3 linked regions of the Homo sapiens genome follow. The protein of the gene in region 3 interacts with the protein of the main gene of each other region in a pairwise test. Each region holds a gene or a part of one and is shown on either strand. Other genes may lie near its edges.

Region 1 (3,747 bases), on a different chromosome or scaffold from region 3:
CAACTCCTAAGCTCAAGCGATCCTCCTTCCTCACCCTCCCAAAGCTCTGGGATTATAGGCACGAGCCATGGTGCCCAGCGTCTATCCCCACTGAATTCCACAGTACAGTACTCTGTATACAGTACGCACTCAAAACACGTTTGTCAAATTTCTCTTCCTGACAGTGCTGATACTTGAACACATTGAAATCTTGAAGAAAACAGGTAAGTCAACAATTAGCTCACTACAGAAATGGGCATACCTAGTGAATTAGTACCTTTGGTTAACATTCTAAGGTTATTTAAAAACACAACTTGTTTTCCATTTCACTGTCAGAGCTGGGTAAAATGAAAGACAAGCCCAGCCTATCTTTGCCTTTTCATCCACTCGATTCTGAATCACTTAGGAAAATATGTAAGTGACGGGGTCAAACAATCCTCCCATCTCAGCCCCCCAAGTAGCTGGGGCTACAGATGTGCACCACCACACCTGGCTAATTTTTGTATTTTTTGTAGAGGTGGGGTTTCGCCTTGTTACCCAGCTGGTCTTGAACTCCTGGACTCAAGCAATCCGCCTGCCTCGGCCTCCCAAAGTGCCAGGATTACAGGTGTGAGCCACTACACCTAGCCAAGGCTAAGGTTAAGGTCATGGAGGAGGCAGGCATAGTATTAGGAAAGCCAATTAGAGAAGAAGCCAGCGGCTCACTCTGTGAAAGTTAACAATAAACAGGCCAGGCGCGGTGGCTCACGCCTGTAATCCCAGCACTTTGGGAGGCCGAGAAGGGCAGATCACGAGGTCAGGAGATCGAGACCATCCTGGCTAACACGGTGAAACCCCGTCTCCACTAAAAAAATACAAAAAATTAGCCAGGCGTGGTGGGGGGCGCCTGTATTCCCAGCTACTCTGGAGGCTGAGGCAGGAGAATGGCGTGAACCCGGGAGGCGGAGCTTGCAGTGAGCCGAGATCATGCCACTGCACTCCAGCCTGGGAGACAGCGAGACTCCATCTCAAAAAACAAAAACAAAAACAAACAAACAAAAAACAATAAACAAATACCTCTTCCCTGACAAGTTAGTTTTAGAATCAGCACTAGATAAGGAGTGGGGCAAGTTCGTGTTCTCTAAGAAAAAGGGGCCTAGGGGATAAGAGGGACTAGAGACACTACCTCATGTCAATCTCATTAAAAGTTGTCAGCATTGCACATGTATTCTGGGCCTCCTTCAGACGCTGAGCAATGCGCTGCCGCATCCTGTTCATTTTCTCCTGAAAGTAAGAGTGGAACAAGCATTGACAATCTGATCTCTCTGGGTCAAGCATTCCCCGTGTAGTCAGAAAGAACACGGCTTGCCACGAGTAGATGGCCAAGGACTACAGTATCTAAGTACACGAGCTCCAGGCTTCCCTTTCCTGTGGTGGCCCTTTCTCCTCCAAGCAAAAACATGCAAACACAGGCCAAAACTACTCACTCAGATGTGCCTAAAGCTTGACCAAGAATGAAGGCTCAGAAACAGTGATTTAAAAACCAAAACCCATTTATAAAAGAATGTAGTGTAGTGTAGTCTAGCCAACATAAGAATCATAAGAAAAAGGGCACTTTCTGTTGATAAAGATTTGCATAAGAATAGCTATTTGTGGAACAGAACCTCATGAGCAACAAACTTTCGAGGCTATCATATTTTTAGGAAGTATTCTCAGGCAGAGGAACCACAATCCTGACCATACTTCCTTGAGGCTTTATGTCTGCACCTGACAGCTATTGCTACTGAGTATTATCCCTTAGCTACAGCTAAGTATCCCAGAAGTATAGGAATAGAGCTCACTAAACCACCTCTCTGAAGCGTGTGACATCGTGGGAGGACGGGGGTGAGTTACTAAGCTACCACCCCTACAAATATTTAACTTACCCAAGGCTTTCACTGGTAGCATAATATAGTAGGAAAACCACTGAACAAGTGTTCAGAAGACCTCAGGTTCTAGTCCTATCATTTGATGGTTATGTGACTATGAAGAAGTTATATCCTAAACTCCCTTTATCAAGGTTGAGGGAATGAGCTGCCAGGCATTCAAAGGTAGGCATCACCACACCCATACTCCACTAATCTCAACACTGCCCCCTGCCTCTTTCCTGAAAGTGGTCCTCAGAGGCTTACCCGATGTTCTGAACGCAGACCTTTGCCAGCTCCTGGCTCAGCTAGTGGTGGGGCAACAGTGGGTTTTACTGCAGACACTGAAAATGAAAAGAGGATAAAGCTGCATCAGACAAGGAAAGAAACATCTGCTGAGTTTGTGCCAGTGCTTTCATATGTACTGTTACTTAATCTTCAAGATATTCTGAGGTATATTAGTATCACTCCAACTTCACAGATGAACAATCTGTTCAGATAAATTAAGTGACTAGCCTAAAGACACACAGCTAGTAACAGAAAGCTGAGATGCAAAGCAGGCCTTTGGATACAAAGTCTAGAATTCTTTCTACAAAGCAGCCAACCTGGCCTGTTCAGAACCATCATCAGTCTAGAGTTTACCCTTTGAAGGAACATATTAGACGAGATGTTCTCCCACATGACATGTGGGAGTTGGAAGCCTACCAGGTTTGCCAGAAGGAGGCTGTGAGGGCGAGGGCACCGGTGGCATCTGAGTGGGTATGGGTGCTGCAGGGGGAGGAACTGCCGCTGCTGTAGGTTCTGCTTTTGGGGCTGCAGCAGCAGGAGCTTCAGCCGGCTTGGCCTTAGCAGGAGCAGCTGAAAAACAAGAAAAGTATATGCCACTGGCACTGTCTGAAATGAGAAGCAACCAAGCAAAATTTAGTGGCAAAAACTCTAGCTCCAATCAAGTAACGAATGTCTACTGGGTATCAGCAATATGCAAAGCACTATGAGACACACACACAATGACATAAGGCACTATTCTCTAGTCCTCAGGGTCCCTAAATGTCCATCAGATAACTGGCTCAACTTAGCTCCCTTCCCAATTTCACAGGTTTCCACTGAATAAATTCAGCAAGTACTTTCAAAGCACCTATCAAGCCCAAGAAAATGTAAACTTCCAAGGAAAAAAAAAAACACCTAGGCAATTTAAAATATTGAAATGCATACATAAACATATTTCTAATTACTGATACTCTTCATCCTCTATTTTAACATTATATATGCAAGAATACTATTAAAAAATAGGCTGGGTGCAGTTGCTCACGCCTGTAATCCCAGGATTACAGGCCAAGGGATTACTCCCCTTGGGAGGCCAAGGCAGGCGGATCACAAGGTCAACAGATCAAAACCATCCTGGCCAACATGGTGAAAGCCCGTCCCTACCAAAAATACAAAAATTAGCTGGGCGTGGTGGCATGTGCCCATAGTCCCAGCTACTCGGCAGGCTGAGGCAGGAGAATCACTTGAACTCCGGAGGCGGAGGTTGTAGTGAATCAAGATCAGGCCACTGCACTCCAGCCTGGCGACAGAGTGAAACTCCATCTCAAAAAATAAAATAGTCATCGAGGGTTGACTTAGGCTTAAGAAAGCACTTCATCCAGGATGACTCATAAATCACTGAAGTGGCCAAGTAATAATCTCACAACTTTAAATGAAATGTTTGTTTCTGTTTTTCACCCATCTGGACATTATATCCAGGGTTAGTGCTAAGACAAACTTCTGCAACAGGAGGACTACCTTATTTCCCAGCCTTCTACCATACATGTTTTCTACTCTGAGCTTCTGGTCTTGCCTGACTAACCTCAATCATGCGGTCTATCTGCCTTATTAGTGTAACAGT
Region 2 (3,747 bases), on a different chromosome or scaffold from region 3:
TGATCTCCTGCCTTTGTGATCCTCCCGCCTCGGCCTCCCAGTGTGCTGGGATTACAGGCGTGAGCCACTGCGCCCGGCCTTCCCCAGCTAATTTTAATGTGTTCCTAGGGTTGAGAACCATGGCCCTTGAAACAAATTATAACTCATGTTTTTGAAAATAGCCAGTTGTCTCCTTGCCACATGTGAGTTAAACTAGAACAGAGGTGCTTGACAACTAAGGGTTTTCAGAATAAATAGTGCCTTTCTAAGGGTACGTTACTACTGTGCAGCTGTGAAAATGAAAGAGGCAGCTATGTGTATACTATTAGAGTAGCATGCAAATTATAGAAAGTGAGGGCCGGGCGCAGTGGCTCACACCTGTAATCCCAGCACTTTGGGAGCCTGAGGTGGACGATCACTTGAGGCCAGGAGTTCAAGACCACCCCAGCCAACACAGCAAAATCCAGTCTCTGGTAAAAGTACAAAAATTAGCCAGGCGTGGTGGGGCGCGCCTGTAATCCCAGCTACTCAGGAGGCTAAGGCACGAGAAGCACTGGAACCCAAGAGGCGGAGGTTGCAGTGAGCCTCCCTCTTTTTTTTGGTCTCAAAAAAAAAAAAAGAAAGAAAGTGAGGATAGCTGCATGCTGAATACCGGGGGGAAAAAAAAGAGTGTGGAAAACAAGTTGCAGAACCGTCTAGTATATTATTACTTTGGGGAAGCTGGGATGGGATTTTTGTGTGTATATATATATATATATATATATATATATATATATATATACACATATATTTAAATAATATTTATTTATTTTTTTGAGACAGAGTCTCACTCTATCCCCTAGGCTGGAGTGCAGTGGCACAATCTCGGCTCACTGCAACCTCCACCTCCCGGGTTCAAGCCATTCTCATGCTTCAGCTTCCCTCAAGTAGCTGGGATTACAGGCGCCTGCCACCACGCCTGACTAATTTTTGTATTTCTAGTACAGACAGGGTTTTGCCATGTTGACCAGGCTGGTCTCAAACTCCTGACCTCAGGTGATCTGCCGGCTTCGGCCTCCCAAAGTGCTGGGATTACAGGCGTGAGCCACCACGCCCAGCTGTATATATCCATATTTTTATTTAATATTTTAGTATTTAATTTCTTAATAAGTTTTTTTGGGGGTGGTGGAGGAGACGGTGTCTCACTCTGTCGCCCAGGCTGGAGTGCAGCAGTGCGATCTTGGCTTACTGCAACCTCTGCCTCCCGGGTTCAAGTGATTATCTTGCCTCAGTAGATGGGATTACAGGTGCTTGCCACCACACCTGGCTAATTTTTGTATTTTTAGTAGGGACAGGGTTTCACCATGTTTGCCAGCTGGTCTCGAACTCCTGACCTCAAGTGATCCACCTGACTTGACCTCTCAAAGTACTGGGATTACAGGCATGAGCCACTGCGCTTGGCCAGGATGTATTACCTTTATAACAAAAAGTTTTTTTTTTTTTTTTGAGACGGAGTTTCGCTCTTATTGCCCAGGCTGGAGTGCAATGGCTCGATCTCGGCTCACCGCAACCTCCACCTACTGAGTTCAAGTGATTCTCCTGCCTGAGCCTCCCAAGTAGCTGGAATTACAGGCATGTGCCACTACGCCCAGCTAATTTTGTATTTTTAGTAGAGACGGGGTTTCTCCATGTTGGTCAGGCTGGTCTTGAACTCCCGACCTCAGGTGATCTGCCCGCCTCAGCCTCCCAAAGTGCTGGGGTTATAGGCGTGAGCCACTGTGCCCAGCCATAACAAAAAATTTTAAATGAAATAATTAAACTAAGGTGTGGGAGTAGTAACATGGAATTTCCATTTGAGGGGCAGACAGAGAGGAGTGGGCTTTTAAAAGTACAGTTCTGAGACCCTTGGAGTGGAGCTGACGACACACTCCTCAGGGTGTCAGTATTGCTTTTGTCCTATTTCTGGCAGAGGTATGAAGGTTATTGAAAACCGGGCCTTAAAAGATGAAGAAAAGATGGAACTCCAGGAAATCCAACTCAAAGAAGCTAAGCACATTGCAGAAGAGGCAGATAGGAAGTATGAAGAGGTAAGTGACCTTCTGTTAGTCCCTCTCGTATCGGCCTTTTACAAAGCATAATGCGGTAAATGGCTCCTTTGCTTCACTAAGCTATACTGGGATCTTTTCCTGTAGGTGGCTCGTAAGTTGGTGATCATTGAAGGAGACTTGGAACGCACAGAGGAACGAGCTGAGCTGGCAGAGTCGTGAGTATCTAGCTCCCCAAATCTTGTCATTACCAATTTATCCCTTCCCCTTTGGCTTGGGCACTAATATGAATAAATTAGCATTCCTTCAACCTTGTTAAACAGGGCCTAGGGAATGGGAGTCATCTATAGTGCTTTTTTAGGCCCAAGAATGGTTTTAGGCTTCCTTATTCTCCTGACTAGTGACAAGTGACAAAAGAGGCTTTCTTATTTTTTGTTGGTAGGGTTTACAAATTGAGAGCAAATAAGGACTAATACATGGTGAACAGTTAATTGGAAGATCCTACTGGGTCCTTCCACCTGGGGTGGAAGACATCAAAGTGGCTATCCTGATTTAAGATCTAGTGTCTGGCTGGGTGTGGTGGCTCAAACCTGTAGTCCCAGCTACTTAGTATGCCAAGGCAGGAAGGTTGCTTGAACCCAGGAGTTGGAGGCCAGCCTGGGCGTCATAGGGAGACCCTGTCCCTAAAACAAATAAATTTAAAAAAAAAATCTGGTGTCTGTTTTGGCCACTTTGCCAATCTGCTAGGGAACCTTAGGGCAAGGGTAGATATTAACTGCTCTCCCGTCGGTACCTTCTGGGCCTTGATTAACAAAGTCAGTGCTGAATGCATATGTATTTGTGCTTCCCTCTTACATTCCCGTCTGCCAGACATAACATATCATGACCATGGTGGTGTTCTCTTCCCATTTTTTGAATTTTTTTTTTTCGTTTTGCTGCTTGTTTTCTTGCTGTGTTCCTTTTTGACCTTTCTCCCTCCCCACAACCTGGCTTGTGCCATCCCCGTGACTATCACTAACAGCCGTTGCCGAGAGATGGATGAGCAGATTAGACTGATGGACCAGAACCTGAAGTGTCTGAGTGCTGCTGAAGAAAAGGTACTAACCATTAAGCCCACAGCAAGGTTATATATGTGGTGTGGTTTTGTTTTGTTTTGTTTTTGTTTTGCAGCTGCCTCCCCTCCACTTGATTTTGTTGAGTGCTGTCTCATCTCTTCATGGAATGCTCCATTCTTTTCCACTTACTTGGCATCTTTCATCTCTTCTTTCCTAGTTGCTTCACTGCCTCTCCACAGGGTCTCCTTCCTTTGGGTGATTTGGGGGACTGTTTGGGTTGGGCATTTGTTCCCACCTCCACCCCAGGTAGCAGTTATGACTTGTTCCTGGTAGTGGATTTCTCTCAAGTGCTTTATTAGTATTCAAACATTTTTGAGCCCAGGAAGGTCTAGCTCCTGACACGTTCTATGGTAGAGGGAGGAGGGTTGATGCTTGCTCAGGTTACTTGGGAACATCTCTTCCCCAGTATGCCTTCCAACTCTCTCTACATATAGGTTCAATTCACGTCTATGTGTCTCTCTCCCTTTTTTTATTCTCTTCCTTTTCCCTTTTCCTCTCCTGTGGTATTTAAAATATTCACAGTAAGTGTTCTGAGCTGGAGGAGGAGCTGAAGAATGTCACCAACAACCTCAAGTCTCTTGAGGCTCAGGCGGAGAAGGTAGGGGCTGGTTTGTGAAAGTGACAGGCTT
Region 3 (3,747 bases):
CTAGCTGCCCAAGGTTCTAGCCTGTGTATGTTATTACATGGATTTTTTTACACATAAATACATAGACTTCAACTCACTTTTCTTTTTACAAAGTATACAATATACCTTGGATGTATTTATATCCCAAGACAGGGTTCTCATTCTTTTTCATGTGTTTTACTGTATGGGTAATATGGGTAATAATTTTTTTTTTTTTCTGAGACAGAGTCTCGCTCTGTAGCCCAGGCTGGAGTGCAGTGGCGAAATCTCAGCTCACTGAAATCTCCGTCTTCCGGGCTCCATCTTACATGCCCATAATCCCAGCTACTCAGGACGCTGAGGTAGGAGAATTGCTTGAACCTGGGAGACAAAGGTTGCAGTGAGCCGAGATTGCACCACTGCACTCCAGCCTGGGCAACAGAGCTAGACCCTGTCTCAACAACAACAACAAAGAAGGAGGAGAAGGAGGAAGAAGGAGAAGAAAAGAAAAAAAAAAGTCGTCAAAGGATATTAATTGTCGATAGATAACAGATAATGCCAAAAAATATAGAAGCAATTCTTAAAACACAGTGTTGGAACTGGTCCACAGCTCTGATTTTTAATGAGCTCCCATTTCTGAGGCCAATATAAACTTCATTCTATGCTGCCCATCTCTGACAGGTGGGCATTAACTACCAGCCCCCCACGGTGGTCCCTGTGGGAGACCTGGCCAAAGTGCAGCGGGCGGTGTGCATGCTGAGCAACACCACGGCCATCACGGAGGCCTGGGCCTGCCTGGACCATAAGTTCGGCCAAGTGCGCCTTAGTGCACTGGTACGTGGGGGAGGGCATGGCAGTGGGGGAATTCTCCGAGGCCCGCGAGGATCTGGCAGCTCTGGAGGATTATGAAGATGTGGGCATGGATTCCGTGGAAGCTGAGGCTGAAGAAGGCGAAGAATAGTGAGGGGAGGGTGCGGCAGGCAACCATCCCTCTGTATTCCCCACCATAACGCTAGGAGAGCTAATTACCTATTAAAATTTCCGTATTGCAAATTAGCCGGGCGTGGTGGCGGGCGCTTGTAGTCCCAGCTACTGTGGAGGGTGAGGCAGCCGAATGGCGTGAACCCGGGAGGCGGAGTTTGCAGTGAGCCGAGATCGCGCCACTGCACTCCAGCCTGGGCGACAGAGCGAGACTCCGGTCTCAGGAAAATAATAATAAAATAAAAAATAAAATTTCTGTATTGCGATACTGTCTTTCTCCTGTGTTGTACTTTGAGAGATTCCTCCTCCAGATAACCCTCCCTGAAGTCCACCTCCCCAGTACGAGAGTGAGTGCGGGCTCTGGTTTTTGTCGGGTTCTTTCGTGCAAGCGTCCCAGGCCCCGTTTTATTTCTTCCGTCAGAGGTCATTCCGAGGCGAGCTGCCGCCCCTGCGGCTTTCGAGGCTCCCAGGACACTGCCGCTTTCCGCTCCCGGGCCGCTCCCGAACGCTGGGGCCGCTCCATCGTGCCGGGGTGTTTACGGAGAAAAGTGAGGCCTGAGCGGACGAAAGAGAAGCCCACGTGGGCGACAATACTGGTAGTCCAGGGAGCTGGGACGACGCGGGCGCGTCAGAAACTCGCACGCTCGCGCCGCTTACTAACCCAGCTAGCTAGGACCTCGCCCCGCCCCGCCCCGGTGGCGGGGGCACCTCCGGCTCTCCAGTCTCTATGGTACCAACTTCCGGCGCGCGCTACCCCTCGCGAGACTTCGGCGGCGCAGCAATGGCCAGAGCGTGAGTGCCGCTGACAGAAGTCAAGAGAATCGGCTGGGACGGGGTTGGGGCGACAACGGGCCGGGGGGGACCCGACAGGCCAGAGCCCCTTGGGGAGGAGCGGCGGCTGGAGGCGCGAGGCTCCTCCGGATGCCCGGAGAGCCGCTTGCGACTTAACTCCCGCCTCTTTCCCAGATGCCGCGTCACTGCTCCGCCGCCGGCTGCTGCACACGGGACACGCGCGAGACGCGCAACCGCGGCATCTCCTTCCACAGGTCAGCGCGCGTGCGCCGCGGGCTCACGTGCGCATGCGCTAGTTGTTGCTCGCCTCGGGTCGCAACTGCGTAGAGGCTTCGCGCCTTTCTCAGATACTGAGGAGGCTTGAACCTGTGGGTGGGAGGTGAAGCGGAACGGTCCCGGCGGGACTGAATGCAGTCGGGAAGGGGAGGACGGGAAGTCTAGCCGGCTTGGACCCGCCCCACTCTGTTACCTGCCAGATGACGCTGAGGAAACTGCTTTTCTTCTCGAGGCCTCCGTTGCCTCGTCTGTGCCCGGGCGGTGGTGCTTACCCGGCGGGGTCGCAGGGAGGTCTCGTGGCGGCGCGTGTTGGGTCTGCGTTTCCCCTCTGGGGTGCTTGGGCAGCATGAGCCCAGGGCTGTGGACAGCCTGGTGCTCACGGGTTTGTGGCTCCACAGACTTCCCAAGAAGGACAACCCGAGGCGAGGCTTGTGGCTGGCCAACTGCCAGCGGCTGGACCCCAGCGGCCAGGGCCTGTGGGACCCGGCATCCGAGTACATCTACTTCTGCTCCAAACACTTTGAGGAGGACTGCTTTGAGCTGGTGGGAATCAGGTGGGCCTCCCTGCCGGCCGACGCTGGGGTAGGATGTGGGGCTCCCGGCGGACTGGGACAGCTGCAGGTCATGGAAGTCCCTTGAGCAGCCTGCGTCCAAGGGGGCTGTTTCCTGTTCCCAGCTCTGCACAGTGAAACCCACCCCCAGGATCACTGTGCCTGTGACACAAGGGGAAAACAGGAGCCTTTCCAGAGAGTATCTTTCAGAGCCCCAGTCTTGCCAGCAAGTCCACAAATCAAAGAATTCTTTCTGGCTGGTCAGCCCAGCTCGGCTTATGCAGGCTTTCCACACACCTGGACTGTGAGGAGTCCTGCGGGGAAGCGATTGGTGTAGCTGTAACTTGGCGTTCCCCAGACGTATTGTTTGCACGATGCCTTCCAGCATCCCACGGCGCTGCTGCTGGGGGCAGATTGGCCTGGGGAGGCAGCACTTGCTCTCCAGCTCATCTGGGTTGCTTTTCCCCGCAGTGGATATCACAGGCTAAAGGAGGGGGCAGTCCCCACCATATTTGAGTCTTTCTCCAAGTTGCGCCGGACAACCAAGACCAAAGGACACAGTTACCCACCTGGCCCCGCTGAAGTCAGCCGGCTCAGACGATGCAGGAAGCGGTATGTGATATGGGTGGGGGATGCCCCACTCCCACCCCTAGGCTGAGGGACTGGGCCCTAGGGGTGTCTGCCAGCAGTCTCGCTGGACAGGGTTCTTGCTACACAGAACCTGTGGATCGGGTTTGGGTGTTAAGGGTGGATCAGGTGGGCTGGTGGAGGGGGGTCTGGCAAGCCCTCAGCCTAGCCCATCAGTCTCTCTCTTCCCCCTTACCAGCTGCTCCGAGGGCCGAGGGCCCACAACTCCATTTTCTCCACCTCCACCTGCTGATGTCACCTGCTTTCCTGTGGAAGAGGCCTCAGCACCTGCCACTTTGCCGGCCTCCCCAGCTGGGAGGCTGGAGCCTGGCCTTAGCAGCCCCTTTTCAGACCTACTGGGCCCCTTGGGTGCCCAGGCAGATGAAGCAGGCTGCAGCGCCCAGCCTTCACCAGAGCGGCAGCCCTCCCCTCTCGAACCACGGCCAGTCTCCCCCTCAGCGTATATGCTGCGCCTGCCCCCACCCGCCGGAGCCTACATCCAGAATGAACACAGCTACCAGGTGGGCAGCGCCTTACTCTGGAAGCGGCGAGCCGAGGCAGC

Evidence for each region.
Region 1: the proteins of THAP7 (region 3) and DLST interact in binary tests that used the Homo sapiens proteins (3 or more experiments, as listed by UniProt).
Region 2: the proteins of THAP7 (region 3) and TPM3 interact in binary tests that used the Homo sapiens proteins (3 or more experiments, as listed by UniProt).

What each region holds. Positions count from the first base shown.
Region 1 is NC_000014.9:74,891,807-74,895,553, reverse strand, and holds part of DLST (dihydrolipoyllysine-residue succinyltransferase component of 2-oxoglutarate dehydrogenase complex, mitochondrial isoform 1 precursor), read right to left. Parts: exon of another isoform or gene 3,496-3,747; intron 2,721-3,495; coding exon 2,568-2,720; intron 2,207-2,567; coding exon 2,130-2,206; intron 1,243-2,129; coding exon 1,145-1,242; intron 1-1,144. UniProt on the Homo sapiens protein: Dihydrolipoamide succinyltransferase (E2) component of the 2-oxoglutarate dehydrogenase complex. The 2-oxoglutarate dehydrogenase complex catalyzes the overall conversion of 2-oxoglutarate to succinyl-CoA and CO(2).
Region 2 is NC_000001.11:154,171,382-154,175,128, reverse strand, and holds part of TPM3 (tropomyosin alpha-3 chain), read left to right. Parts: intron 1-1,927; coding exon 1,928-2,045; intron 2,046-2,150; coding exon 2,151-2,221; intron 2,222-3,024; coding exon of another isoform or gene 3,025-3,100; intron 3,101-3,640; coding exon 3,641-3,716; intron 3,717-3,747. UniProt on the Homo sapiens protein: Binds to actin filaments in muscle and non-muscle cells. Plays a central role, in association with the troponin complex, in the calcium dependent regulation of vertebrate striated muscle contraction.
Region 3 is NC_000022.11:21,000,070-21,003,816, reverse strand, and holds the start of THAP7 (THAP domain-containing protein 7), read left to right. Parts: upstream 1-1,698; 5' UTR 1,699-1,905; coding exon 1,906-1,985; intron 1,986-2,405; coding exon 2,406-2,561; intron 2,562-3,029; coding exon 3,030-3,170; intron 3,171-3,384; coding exon 3,385-3,747. UniProt on the Homo sapiens protein: Chromatin-associated, histone tail-binding protein that represses transcription via recruitment of HDAC3 and nuclear hormone receptor corepressors.